Homo sapiens: one gene and its partners. The protein of the gene in region 1 purifies or fractionates together with the protein of each later gene. This does not show direct contact. Each region holds a gene or a part of one and is shown on either strand. Other genes may lie near its edges.

What was found. The genes of interacting proteins can lie anywhere in the genome.
Region 2: the proteins of RBSN (region 1) and E2F3 purify together in Homo sapiens (pull-down; one large-scale study listed by IntAct). This does not show direct contact.
Region 3: the proteins of RBSN (region 1) and LMX1B purify together in Homo sapiens (affinity purification with mass spectrometry; 2 studies listed by BioGRID and IntAct, with this or other methods). This does not show direct contact.
Region 4: the proteins of RBSN (region 1) and PCDHA4 purify together in Homo sapiens (affinity purification with mass spectrometry; 2 studies listed by BioGRID and IntAct, with this or other methods). This does not show direct contact.

Annotation. Positions count from the first base shown.
Region 1 is NC_000003.12:15,069,573-15,072,360, reverse strand, and holds the end of RBSN (rabenosyn-5), read left to right. Parts: 3' UTR 1-2,288; downstream 2,289-2,788. UniProt on the Homo sapiens protein: Rab4/Rab5 effector protein acting in early endocytic membrane fusion and membrane trafficking of recycling endosomes. Required for endosome fusion either homotypically or with clathrin coated vesicles.
Region 2 is NC_000006.12:20,481,879-20,485,378, reverse strand, and holds part of E2F3 (transcription factor E2F3), read right to left. Parts: intron 2,618-3,500; coding exon 2,459-2,617; coding exon of another isoform or gene 2,430-2,458; intron 1-2,429.
Region 3 is NC_000009.12:126,612,705-126,616,727, forward strand, and holds the start of LMX1B (LIM homeobox transcription factor 1-beta), read left to right. Parts: upstream 1-1,223; 5' UTR 1,224-1,745; coding exon 1,746-1,884; intron 1,885-2,678; coding exon 2,679-2,865; intron 2,866-4,023. UniProt on the Homo sapiens protein: Transcription factor involved in the regulation of podocyte-expressed genes. Essential for the specification of dorsal limb fate at both the zeugopodal and autopodal levels.
Region 4 is NC_000005.10:140,978,068-140,981,567, reverse strand, and holds part of PCDHA4 (protocadherin alpha-4 isoform 1 precursor), read right to left. Parts: intron 2,620-3,500; coding exon 2,561-2,619; intron 1-2,560. Other genes in the region: PCDHAC2 (protocadherin alpha-C2 isoform 1 precursor), read right to left, coding at 2,561-2,619; PCDHAC1 (protocadherin alpha-C1 isoform 1 precursor), read right to left, coding at 2,561-2,619; PCDHA13 (protocadherin alpha-13 isoform 1 precursor), read right to left, coding at 2,561-2,619; PCDHA12 (protocadherin alpha-12 isoform 1 precursor), read right to left, coding at 2,561-2,619; PCDHA11 (protocadherin alpha-11 isoform 1 precursor), read right to left, coding at 2,561-2,619; PCDHA10 (protocadherin alpha-10 isoform 1 precursor), read right to left, coding at 2,561-2,619; PCDHA9 (protocadherin alpha-9 isoform 1 precursor), read right to left, coding at 2,561-2,619; PCDHA8 (protocadherin alpha-8 isoform 1 precursor), read right to left, coding at 2,561-2,619; PCDHA7 (protocadherin alpha-7 isoform 1 precursor), read right to left, coding at 2,561-2,619; PCDHA6 (protocadherin alpha-6 isoform 1 precursor), read right to left, coding at 2,561-2,619; and 4 more. UniProt on the Homo sapiens protein: Calcium-dependent cell-adhesion protein involved in cells self-recognition and non-self discrimination. Thereby, it is involved in the establishment and maintenance of specific neuronal connections in the brain.

The DNA.
Region 1 (2,788 bases):
GAGTGTAGTGGCATGATCTCAGCTCACTGCAACCTCCACCTCCCTGGTTCAAGTGATATTTGTGCCTCAGCCCCCTGAATAGCTAGGATTACAGGCGTGGGCCACCACGCCTGGTTAATCTCTGTATTTTTAGTAGAGGTAGAGTTTCACCATTTTGGCCAGGCTGGTTTCGAACTCCTGGCCTCAAGTGATCTGCCACCTTGGCCTCCCAAAGTGCTGGGAATACAGGCGTGAGCCACTGTGCCCGCCCTGATGAGATATTTTATTACCAATGTTAGTATTGAGAAACTGAAATGTTTGAAGAAGCACAACCCAGGATCGTGCTGGTAGCACCACAGTACTTAAACTGTTGGTCAATTAAGGCCAGAAAGGGAAATTGTTAATTTAGCTCTGGTGCTTTGGTTTACAGGAACATAACTCTTAACTGACATCTGACATCATGATAGCCATATGTGCTCAGCTCTGGGTAGAGTTTCTGCAGTTACTCATCTGAACTAATGAACAATAACTGACCACTAGTCACTTTATGCCGTGTAACTAGCTCTAGGCCATACTTTCACTGGTTACTGGTGTGAAAGCTGAAATTCATTTTGTTACATTCTGGTGAAGACCCCTCTTGATAATGGGAATGTTTTAACTCTCTTGATGAAAAAATAATCTGTATTTGTGTTGATGTTCACATTTCTGTAGCACATTTCTTATCCTTTTGGTTGAATGAAAAGATCTTGTATAGGGGTGTGGAGATGGGGAGTGGGTAGAAGTGTGTGAAGGACGCTTTGCATTTGGGATCTGTTCACAAACAGCCATATGAGTGTGTTAATGAATGTCAGCCAGTTACCAACCCTGCTGGTTGTTATGGGTTGTTTTGAGAAGTTGGCAACCAGGCATCTAAGATGTTGCCTGGTACAGGCCTCTTTTCTTCCCTGAGGCCCATGACATTTCTCTGTTACTCTAGAGGGTTTCTCAGATGGCCAGTAGGCTCCTCCCTGCTTAGGGTCTCATTTCTCTGAAAAGAGGATGAACTGAAAAGCAGGTAGTTCCAGAAGCTAATTGCTGCTTTCCATCATAATTATTTTTCTTGTGAGAACATTTCTCTTTTAATTAGCTAGTGATTTTGATTAAGACTAATTCACTAAACATACCCTTCCCTCAAATCACCTCAGGTAGCAATCTGTAAGTAACTAAAAGCATTGAAAAACACACAAGAAACATTTTTAAAAACTATTTTTAAAGGCCTGGCCGGGTGCAGTGGCTCACTCCTGTAATCCCAGCACTTTGGGAGGCCGAGACGGGTGGATCACCTGAGGTCAGGAATTTGAGACTAGCATGGCCAACATGGTGAAACCCCGTGTCTACTAAAAATACAAAAATTAGCTGGGCGTGGTGGCAGACGCCTGTAATCCCAGCTACTCAGGGAGGCTGAGGCACGAGAATCGCTTGAACCTGGGAGGCGGAGGTTGCAGTGAGCCAAGATTGCGCCACTGCACTCCAACCTGGGTGACAAGAGCAAGACTCCGTCTCACAAAAAACAAACAAAACTGACTGATTGAATATACTAAACCAAACTAAAATCATATTCTTTTGATTAAGTTTATCCATGGCTGTATTCTTCTATGAATTCTTCCATTTAATTCTTCCACGATTATCTTCTCCTGTAAATACATCACAGGAGTTAGAATTCTCTACCCATCAGCTGTACCATGTCGCAGAATTCATGCAGGCACAAAGTTGGAGTTACAGAGATGGGTTGACAGCAGGCAAACTTGGCCTATGTATTATAACCACAACTTCAAGTTCTTACCTCATGTGAATATTCACCCTTTCTTTAGTCTTCCAAGGCAAACAGCCCCGTCTCATCACCAGATGAGCAAGGTCTTGATATGGCATAGCAGATCTCCCTAGACACAGATCATGAGAAAAGATGGAAGAGACTTAGGGATTCAGGCATCAGATGAAGTTGGCTTTTCCCTTTTATGCCTTGTTTGTATTTACCCTGTCTAATACACTAAGGATACTTACTCATTGTACTTGCAGCTCAATATGTCTTTGCTGTTCAGATACTAAAATGTACCTCTGAGTCATTGTGAGCTGTGTGGTAGGTTGGACATTGGCATAGTTGGTGATGGGACTCAAAATGAAAAGGTGGTCTCTTTACCAGGTCACAGACTGTAGCAGATTGTGCTTGTTATCTGACAATGACTGTCACTTTGAGGGTCGTTGATTTGCATGCACTACTCTGGGGCCTTGTATTGGAGCCTTTTTTAAAAAAAATAAAATCTGAGATAGAGGTTGGGGGTGTGTGTGTCTGTGTGCACATGTGTTACAAGTGAGAATCATCAGATGACATCCCTTCTCCTTTCTTGATGACAACCATCTGAGTATCAGAATAGTTCCAGCACCTGTGTTGTTTGTCTGGTTAAGGCCTCTGGAAAAAATGAAGGTCACTGGGTTCTGAACAGGGGATAGATACGGGTTCCAGTTCTGCCCTTATTCCCAGTTATTCCTGCAGTGCTGGTTAAATGAACAGTTTTACAGAAGTATAGTGCAGATCCCTTAATGATCCTATCATCCCAGTTTCACACTGGAAGAAACTGAGGCTCAGAGATTGAGGAACCTTGTGACTGCCATCTGTGCCAGTCACCACCTCTGCATGACCACATTTCCCTCCATTAGCACTACCAGCATGCCTGTGAGGTAGTTACTCAGCTGTTCATCTGACCCCAGACGTAGAAAAGTTAAGAGAGATTAGCCTGGCTTAGGCCACACAGCCAGTCAGTGGTGGAATGAG
Region 2 (3,500 bases), on another chromosome or scaffold:
TTGAACTCCTGGACTCAAGTGATCTGCCTGCCTCCGGCCTCCCAAAGTGCTGGGATTACAGGTGTGAGCCACGGCGCCCGGCCTTGGTCATTTTTTCTAAGCACTGAACCATTCTTTTAAATGTCCTGACAGCCAAGCCTAAAAGGCTATCATGAAAGAATATGGTACTTACGATATGACAAAAGTATTCAATTAATGTACAATGTCTTTAGCCCGTTATTATTTTTTATATGTACCCACAAAAAATTCCTAGGATAAAACAGCAAGTAACAAACCAATGAAGGCATTTCAGCAGGTAGTATAACGTATTTAATGGCTAATAGAGTCCGTGATCTAATATGTTTAATATAAAAAAAAGGGGGGGCTTAGAGACCCTAGAATAAATCATGTCCCTTACGATAGTAGCTTCTTTTTTTTTTTTTTTTTGAGACGGACTCCCACTCTGTCACTAAGGCTGGAGTGCAGTGGCACGATTTCAGCTCACTGCCACCTCTGTCTCCCAGGTTCAAGTGATTCTCCTGCCTCAGCCTCCCGAGTAGCTGGGATTACAGGCATGAGCCACCGTGCCTGGCTGTAGTAGCTTCTTATTAGAAACTGAATGCAGCTATGGAACTACTACTCCAGAAAGAAAGCACATTCACACGAAATCTGCATACACATGTAGGGGATCTATCACAGACTATCTCCTTCAAATCTTTACAGTTGAGATGATGGCTAATTCAGTGTTGAGCTTGTAGTGGCTGCTCTTGCAGGATTCTGGGTTTTAGGTCACTACATAACCCATCAAAGAAGTCAACGGATGCCTTTATAGAGGGCCAGGCAGTTCTGATTTTTTACTGAGAACACTGGAAAAAACTGACAACCAGGTACTTACACTACAGCTCACTGTCAAAAAGCTGTATGACAAGAACTTATTAAAATAAAAACTCATCACTTCTTGGCCTTTTGGCTAAGATCAAGTGTAAAAGAAAAACTCATCTACGATTACTCAACATGCTGCAGGAAGGAAAATTTCAACACATTTGTGAACAAGCTGTACCAATTTGGGAACTGAATGGTGAACTGAAATAAATTGTGCAAATGTATTTTCTAATCTTACAAACTTAAAAGTGCTTCCTTTGTGGCTCCCTCCTGAATTTACTCCTTGGGTTCGAAGTTCCCTGCAAGGAAGCTTTCATTTTCTGCAACAAAGGCCCCAGAGAGAGCTAATATAGGTGACAATGCCATAAGCCACATGTCCCGGAAGGCTGCCAATCACATGTAACCACCCATCTCTTCCACAATGGGGCTCCCAACCAAACAATGAATGAAACAGCCCAACTGTTGGTTTCTTCCCCTGTAAACCCACTCTGCCAACCACTGGGGGTCCAAATCACTACGCCTCTCTTCCATCTCACTAATTATCGGCTGACAAGGTTAATTCTTTGGTCAACAGGAAATGAACAATTGCAGGTTTGAAAAACTGCCAACATTGGAAGAAAATAAATATCTCCATATTCTCCAAGGGGGAGCCTGTTAAAGATGAGACACTAGAAGAATCTGGGCAGAACACTTTTTAGTTTTTGTCAAATAATGGTAAATGTGCAATCATCAGAAGTTTGGAACTAAAACTAGAGATGGGATAACTTACAGTACTGTTTTTTGTCTTCTAATAACTGAGAATATTGGCAAGTCTTGTTTGACATAATGAGGCAATCTCTCTCTTACTTTGTCTGTAGTGAGATGATGAAGAGCAAGTTTTCCTGAGATCGTCAATAGATTGTCAGGAAGTTGAGAACAAGAACTGACCTTTTGTATTTTTATTTGCGAGGACTAATGTTTGTAGTGGAACAGAGGAATTGAGAGGGGTTTCTCAGGTCTTGGGGTGCTTTTGAAATCAGTTTTTTCATTGGGAATCAGCAGAATGCACTTTAAGAGTTATAGTATGATTTTTCTCTACTCTTTCAAACCCTTCAACTATAGCCCAATCAGATAGATTCAACCAATTTCAATTGCTACGATATCTGGTGAGAAGAAAATAGAATGTGAGAACCCCAACAGTGACAGCTAACACCCACCAAAAATCTGGGAAGCCAAAGACGAATCTGCTTAGTGTTGTCATTAATATTAATACCGACACCTTATGTATCTTTTAATAGTGTGGCCTTACGCTACGAGTATACCCATGTCTCAACCACACATGAAAAAATGCTTTAAAAAACAGTTCCCACCTGGTATCAAAATAGATAATAATAGGATCGAGTTGGTGACTATCTTACCATAAATACTGACTTTTTAGGCAAAGCTAACTGGGTTTACACACACACGTGCACACACACACACATACACACACAGGCACACAGGTACTCATTTGCATGACATCAGAATAATAATCTACCTTGTGCATAAGTCAGATTGTCAACTCTGGAAATAGTCTAGGAAGCACTAACCCCCAGAGAACTGGCGGCACAAAGGATATCTTTGATTCTCTGAATCCTCGGTTAACAGTTTGAGGTCCAGGGTGCAGCTTTGGATCAGTTCATCTAATTTCTTCTCTTCCTGACTGAGCTCGGTCACTTCTTTTGACAGGCCTTGACACTGGGCCAGCATGCCCCCATCCTCAGACAGACTGCAGCCCCTAGAAACCCAAACACAGACTCTTCATGGCTACTCATGGGAGGGAGGGGAAGGAGAAATGATCCTTTGGGTAAATGTCTCCTCTTGACATAGGAGGTCACATTGCTTGTTAGCCAAGTGTTAAAATTAGAACATTTACACATATATATATATATATATATATTTTTTTTTTCATAAATACAGTTCTGCACTTTTCACAGCATAGAAATTTAGTGAAAGCGCACTGCTATTTTCAGGATTCTTTCCTCCAGGGGAGGTCTACTTCTTCAGAAGGTTCAAATTCAGAGGGCAAAAGAAGGCAACCACCTTCCTCCCTTGCCTCATGGCTCCCAGGTGGTGGGGGAAGAAAGGCGAAAAAGGATAAAAAGATAGAGAAAGACAGAGAAGATGGAATGGTTCAAAATTAAAAAAAAAAAAAAACAAAAAAACAACCCATCCAAAAAAGCATCAAAAACTCAGGTAATTACTGAGGGTCTTATATCAACAACTAAAAAGAAAAGAAAGTAAAGGAAACAGATGTATGTGATGTATGCAAGAACTGAGACTAGTGCACAATATGTTTCTCTAAACCAGAGGCCAAAACGGGTTACCAAACTGTCAACAAAATTCCAAAATGTGCAAAAAAAGGTATGTATTCATCTTCCATCTGAATTAGTATCTTTTCAAAGCCCTCCTGTAACAGAATTATTCCTTCCAAAATGCTTTAATAATTCAATACTGTGCTTATAGTGGCTATTTAGATGCTCTAAAATTCACAAAATATATTACATATGTAATCATACGTGTGGCTGTATAAGTATCATGCTACCATCCCTGCTCTACAGACGAAATGGAGGCATTTAAGTCTTGCCTTAATTTACCCAGAAAGTGAGTTAATCTGCTAT
Region 3 (4,023 bases), on another chromosome or scaffold:
TACCCCGGGCCGCAACCGCCCCCCTGCTCCCCGGTGAGCCGCGCGTCGGTGGGGACCACGGGCCGCAGACAGCCGGTCCGACGCTGTGGCCTCTCGCACCGGACGCGGGTGCCAGGCCCGGCTGGCGCGGAAGTCGGCAGCTCCATCTCGCCAGCTTTCGCGTCCCGTTGCCGAGGTCCACTTTGCCCAGGCTGGCTAGAGCACTGTCCTTGATCCGCGCGTCCCAGCGACCCCTGGCCGGGCACCCGACCCGCCAAAGGACCCCGATCTTGGCAGCCAACCTAATTTCTTCAGAGCCGCTACCCTGGGGCCACCACTCCCTCCTAGCGCCCCTCACTGCAAACCCTAGGAGGCCCGGGTCTTGCCCACTGCTCCTGCCCCTGCCCGGGGACCCCTTTTCCAGCCTTAGTTGTCCTCTAAACTCTCGGTCGCCTGAACCCAGGCCTGACCTTCCTTGTCGTCCCAGTGTCCCCCATTCTCGATCCCGGGGCCCCAACCTCCCATCGGCTCAGTCCCCCGCCCAATCTCTGCCAGGCCCGGAGCTTTCCCAGACCCCTCACCCACACTCCAGGCTCACTCCCCGTTCCTGGGCCTGGGCCCCCCTTGCACGAGTCCAGGGCCAGCCGTCCTCGCCTTCTGCCCGCCCCCGTCCTTCGTTCCTGGGAGCCGGCCCTCTCCGCGGACCAAGCGGCCCCGAGCAGGCGCCGCCGCCCGGGGGACTCCGACTCAGCCCCCGCGACCTACCTCGGCCGACAGTCGGGGGTTCCCAAGCGGCCACTCCCGGCCGGCGCCGTCCCCTGGCGGAGCCGCCGCGCTCCCTGCCGTCCGCGCAGTCTGGCCTCGCTCGGGGCCACTCCTCGTAGCGCTGGAGCTTTACAAAATATTAATAATAAAGAAGGCAGAGGAGAAAAAAGAAAGCCTTCGCTCCCCAACTCCCAAATCAATTTTTCAAGGGGGTGGAGCAGAGGGATTTGTTTCGAAGACGATCAAAACTTCTGCGAGGGGCCCGCGGGGCGGCCGGGCCGGGGAGCCGGGGCCTGAGCTCGGGGCCAGGCGCGGCGCGGGGCGCGGGCCAGGGGCGCGGAGCCCCGGGGCGCGCGGGGGGGCGGGACGGCACTATTTGACGTGGAGCCGGCGGCGCATCCCGGCGCAGGGATACCGGCCGCGGGGTTCAAATGTCAGGAAGTTTCGGGAGGTGAGGCGGCCCGTATCCCTCCGCCGCCAGCCCCAGCTCTAAACCCGGCGGCTCAGCGGGCGCACCATGGCACTGGAGTAGCGCGGGGAGCGCGCCCGGAGCCCCGCGGCCCGCTGCGCCCCGCCCGGGACCCCGCTGCGCCGCGCGCCCCCCCCGCGGCCCGCGGGGCCGCCCCTGCACCCCCACCCCCTCCCCCGCCTGCCGCCGCCGCCACCGCCACCGCCGCCGCCGCCTCCTCCCCGCGGCTCCGTCTGCAGCAGCCGCCGCCGCCGGGTTCCGGGACTGACAAGCAGGTGACAGAGGAGCCGGCGCGCGTGGCTGCAAGTGTCCGGGAGAGCGCGGCGCGGGCTGCAGCCGCCCCGGCCCGCCCGCACGACGCCGGGGCCCGGGGCCAGCGCGTCGCCGCTCCACGATCGCCGGGGGCCGGCGCAACCCCTGCCCTGCGGGGGCCGCGCCTCCCCGGTTCCAGGGCCGCGGCGGCGGAGAGCGGGTGGACGGGCCGGCGGGCGAGCAGCCCGGCCGGCGGGGTCCGCAGCGCGCCCCGCGTCCCATGGATATAGCAACAGGTCCCGAGTCGCTGGAGAGGTGCTTCCCTCGCGGGCAGACGGACTGCGCCAAGATGTTGGACGGCATCAAGATGGAGGAGCACGCCCTGCGCCCCGGGCCCGCCACTCTGGGGGTGCTGCTGGGTGAGTGCGGGGTCGGAACGCCCGAGTGGTCTCGGGCGTGGGATGGGGCGTCGTCCGGCTGTGGACACGGGCGTTGGGGCCAACGGATAAAGGAAATGGGTTTGCAGGACATGGGGAGGAGGCAGAGACAGGACTCCTGGAGTGATCGCCAGAGGGCCGCAAGTACGCCTCCGGCAGGCGTCCTGAGGGGACAGGACAGCTCCAGTCGCCACCCACCATCCTTTCCAGGCTTAGGTTCTAGAGCTGCCACTCCGATGTGGTAGGTGGCGGGTGGCAGGGGTGATGGAGGACCTAGCAATCACCTTGGCGAGCTTGGGAGAGGCGCAAGGTCACCTGGGGTGGGGGAGATTCTAAGAGAAAAACGTCTCCCTGGTCACTCAAACCACAGATTTTGGGGAGATCGGGGATAGAAGACCACGAACGCCACCGTGGGGCGTGTCAGCCAGCGAGCGCCCCAGCCTCACCTCGCCTGTCTTGGTCCCAGCCGGCCACCCTGCGCCGTGCTCGTTGTCATTTGTCTTAACACGGAGCGCGGATTCTCCGGAGAAGGGGAGAGCACAGCGCCGAGCCAAGGCTCGAGGCCCGCGGCCTCTCCACGCCGGAGCCCGAGGACTGGGACGGACTAGCCGGGGCCGCCCGGCCCCTGGCGCGGCGGTCCGGGGAGCGCAGGCGGCAGGCGGTGATCCCGGGCGGCCCGAGCCCTCGGGGCCGAGGGCTGTGGGCCCGGTGCGACCGGGACGCCGGGGCTGGGCCGGGCGGCGCTGACGGCCGGGCTTTCGCCCTGTGCGCTACAGGCTCCGACTGCCCGCATCCCGCCGTCTGCGAGGGCTGCCAGCGGCCCATCTCCGACCGCTTCCTGATGCGAGTCAACGAGTCGTCCTGGCACGAGGAGTGTTTGCAGTGCGCGGCGTGTCAGCAAGCCCTCACCACCAGCTGCTACTTCCGGGATCGGAAACTGTACTGCAAACAAGACTACCAACAGTAAGCGCTTCTCGTCCTCCTTCCCCGCCACCGCCCGGCACTCGAGCCCGGTCAGCCCCCTGCCGGGCCCGGCCCGCGCCCGCTCTGCCGCCGGCTCTGTGCGCGGCTGGGCCGGGCAGCTCCAAGGGTTCCGAGAGCTGCGCGTCTTGGGGCTGGGGCGGACCAGCCCAGCCCAGCGGGCACTGATGGGGTCCTGGGAGCCTCCGGACGGCCCCCAGTTGCCATCCGTTGTCCCGGAATCCTGCGCTGGGCCGGCCGAGGGATTTGGTGCCTGGGTCCTGGGATATAGGGTCTGGCGCTACGGAGGCCTGAATTGGGAACCCAAAATTGATTTCCAAAGGAAAATAATGTTTTAGGGAGCCAGGCCTGGCGGACTGCTTCAAGGGCCTGGTGTGTGGGGGTTTGGGATTCCTGGAGCCTGGAGCCAGGAGCCAGGAGGTGGAGTGCTGGGACACTGAACGGCCTGAGCGGCAAGGGAGGCCCCCTTTCTGCCAGGCTCACTGCTGCACTTTTAGTCCCTGATGGAGAGAAAAGAATGTCCATATTCCCCAAACCGTTCCATGCGGGAATTTTGCACTTGCAGTTTTCTTTGGTTGGAGAAGCACTCTAGGAAGAGGATCTCAAAAGGTGGCAAGTTACAATTTGGGGCTCCCAATGGGAGTGAGGAGCTGACTGAGTCAGCCCTTCCCACAAGGCCTCCTTTCTGGTAGTGTGTATTGAGGAGGGAGATGGCCCGCTCTGCCCTGGTATAACCCAAACCTCAGGGCTGAGGCCAGAGATGTGGGTTGAGCCCTTCTTGCTAACTAGTTTTTAGCTGAGACTGGATTTGTATGGCCGGGGTTGGGGACAGACAACAGGACATGCAGGCTTTTTCTTTTGACCTCCTGGGTTTTCTGCCTGGCACTGCAATTGGGAGGGAGGCAGTGAGGAGCCACAACTGAAAGAGGGGTGTGGAGATCCCCAAAGCTCTGTTGCAGACACAGCGGGTGCCTGCGAAAACTTTAGTGATGCCAGAAAACCGTCCTGGATGAGGCTGCAGAGCGGGTAGGCTGCTTAGGTGGTTTGGTGCTCAGAGAGGGCTGTGTATGCCCAAGCCTCCAGGGAAGGAAAAGCTGGGCTGCCGGCGCCTCGTGGTGAGTGCAACCTACCTGTTCTGCC
Region 4 (3,500 bases), on another chromosome or scaffold:
AAGCCTCACTCTGTCACTCAGGCTGGAGTACAGTGGCACGATCTCAGCTCACTGCAACCTCTGCCTCCCAGGTTCAAGCAATTCTCCTGCCTCAGCCTCCCAAGTAGCTGGGACTACAGGCACCCGCCACCATGCCTGGCTCATTTTTGTATTTTTAGTAGAGACAGGTTTTCACCATATTGACCAGGCTGGTCTTGAACTCCTGACCTCAAGTGATCCACCTGCCTCACCCTCCCAAAGTGCTGGGATTACAGGCATGAGCCACTACACCTAGACTAGAGGACCCTTTTAAACTAGACATTTGCTTATCTTGAAAGTTAAATTTCTAAAATAAAATTTAGACTACTGACTAAAGGGGTTATATGAGGCAACAGAGCAGGCAAACTTGAACTATTAGAGGGAAGGCAACATATAAGTTCAATGTTTTCTCACTCTTTGACTTCAAACAACATATCCAGTAGAAATTCACTCATTAAACTCTGACCTTTTACTATTCTTCCCCTTGTCTACACTCTAGAATTATCTGTTTTTTTTCCCCAAATATTAACAGCCTTCAAGTGTTCCTGGATCCTACTAGCAAATTGTGTGGGCTCAGTCAGATTCATGAAGGTGTAACTATCCTGGAGCCAGCTCAGCTCAAAGCAGAATTTTTTAAAGAATAGTTACATGATGTCCAAGACTGGAAAGACCGAGAACACCCAAGCACACATACGAAAAAGATTAGTATTATTTAGGTTCACAACTCATTTAATATGTTCAATGTATTACAATGCAAAAAAGAAATGGCATTTTAATTTCAATTTTTATTTTATTTCTTACCCTACTCAAATCTCATAATATCTTAATTGAAACCCGAATAGGAGCACATTTGGCTTTTTTTTTTCAATTTGAAAATGGGATAAGGAAGTTATGTTATTTTATTCATTTATTTATTCTTCTGAGACAGAGTCTCGCACTGTCGCCAGGCTGGAGTGCAGTGGCTCGATCTTGGCTCACTGCAACTTCCGCCTCCCGGGTTCAAGCGATTCTCCTGCCTCAGCCTCCCTAGTAGCTGGAACTACAGGCACATGCCATCACGCCCAGCTAATTTTTGTATTTTTAGTAGAGACAGGGTTTCACCGTGTTGTCCAGGATGGTCTCGATCTCTTGACCTCATGATCTGCCCACCTCGGCCTCCCAAAGTGCTGGGATTACAGGTGTGAGCCACCGCGCCCAGTCCAGGAAGTTATGTTTTAATGTTTTATTTCAAATGTAGTTTTTAAGGCACAACTCATAGCTTTGGTACTTTTCAAGAGTTGGTACTGTAAACCATGCTTTTACCCATTGCATGTCTCCACCAACAGCTCAGATGCAGGCAAAAGCACAAGTTGGTCTCTAATAAATATAAAGAATTTCTTCTGATACCTAATATTCTGGTATATGCATGAATGTTTCTGGCCTAAAATTATGACCCAGGTTCCAATGTGACATCTTACCAAGCCAACTACTAATCTTCAGCCCTTCACTGATTGCTTCTGAATCAGAAATAGCACCCAATGTAATGATTTCTGCTCATTTGTAATGCTTGAGAGTATGTTAATTTATTTCAATCTAATGCATTTTAATGGGCTAAAACTAATTTCACATTAACTCTACACATACTTTGTAGGCTTTCTCTTTACGAACTGATCTAAGTTTGGTGAATATTCACTTGATAGTTGCCCAGATATTTTGAGGGGCTTAAGTTTGAAGATTATTTCTTCTTTAAAATTAAATCCTTTTGATAGTTGTGATCATTTGTTTCTTGGTCCTTCCCATTTGGTTTCCAAAGACATTCGCAAATAATGAATCTTTTATTTGGCCCCATGGCATGGATACTGGATCACCTCCAGAAATAATGGTAGTTAATCAATTACTGTCAGAGAGACAAAGTAGAGAAAGCAAAATTATATTTAATCTGAGTCTTAGACTAATACCGTTACTCTAGGTTAATTTAAAGTAAGCTAGATTTGGAGCCCTTTACATGGCTCATCTTCTGAAGAACCATGTCATTGATGACAATAAGATAGCAACAGATGGGAAAGATGAGGAGGCTCTAATAGGTGTGAACACAAACAACAATAGCAATCAATTATTGAGGGTAATAGGATGTAATAGCCAATGTGAGATTAAAAAAAAAACAAGGTAGACAACATGTATGTATACATTGCACAATGTACCCAAGTCTCAAAGCATGAGTATTAATTACAGTTTTTAAAGGAGGAAAAGAAAGCATAGGTAGAGAGGGATGAAGGAGGTTGAAATTACTTCCCTGTAGAAATTTTGATGGGAGAAAATACATAGCAGCCTGTTTCTGTGATTTTACAGAGGACTCTTATATGCCAGCACTTGATAAGCATCTGGCACTGACCATTTGCGATCTTTCAAGGAATAAACATGGGGACAAAATAATTGCATTTTCCTGGCAAAGTACCTAAAGCTTTTTAGTTTTGACAGCTGCTTCTGGCCTATGGAGATGCAGTTTATCTGAGCCATACCAAGTTAAGGTTACTTCTGAGTGAATGAGGAGGGAAATACATACCTGTGCATGCCTGCTCTCAGGGAGGCAGAGTAACGCCAGTCAGGGTTGGGCTGTCGTGGCTGCAAAATCACAAAGAGAGTTTTCTGTTAAAATGACAAGACAATGTTCTCCCAGGAATGCTGCTAATTGATTAGTTACTCCCTTAAATATTTCCAGGCATCTAAAAAAGTATTGAATGAGCCATTTCATGTGTAACTCTATGATGATATCTACATATATAGCACTTTAGAAGAAAATTAGTTCATCAGGGTCCTCACACAGATTAGATACCCTGGAAGACCAGATTTAATAATCTTGTAAAGGCCACCTTTGGCTTTGCCTTGCCCAATACATGTCTGTGTTCTTAAAACACTACGGGAAGAACAGTCTGCTTTGAGAAAGGAAAAGCTTTCACTGCTTTTGCCCTCAAGTGCCCCATTAAGGGAACATTCCCAATTCAGTATTACAGCTATAACAGGGCACATGGCTACACAAGTTCTGCTGGCCTGGCTGGACTGCAGAGGACTGCAATCTGCTGCTGGCTTTGCAGACTGCAGCATATTTGACCCAGGGCGGATGTGCCCAGTCATAACACCAGCAACTGATAACAGTCTCTTTTCTGATTGAAGAGGGATACTAGGGAGAGGAAAACAAACTATTGCAGAGTTTGACCTTGTTTTGCTAGCTAATCCTTTTCATAAACTTGTACTTGTTCCTGCTCCTTCCTGAGTGCTTTCCCTCCTCACTGAATCACTGTTCACTAAGCTCTGATTGTTTAACAGGGAGTAGCTGAAATCCAAGAAAAACCTGATACATTTTGCATTAGTTGTGTATTGAAAAGATCTGTTGCCCTCTCTCTACAAACTCTCAGTCTGAAGGGGGAGAACAAAGAGGAAAATATGGGCACCTAAAGACTTAAAGACTGTTGGGGGAGTTATGTGCTGGTTAGAAGCTACTCAGA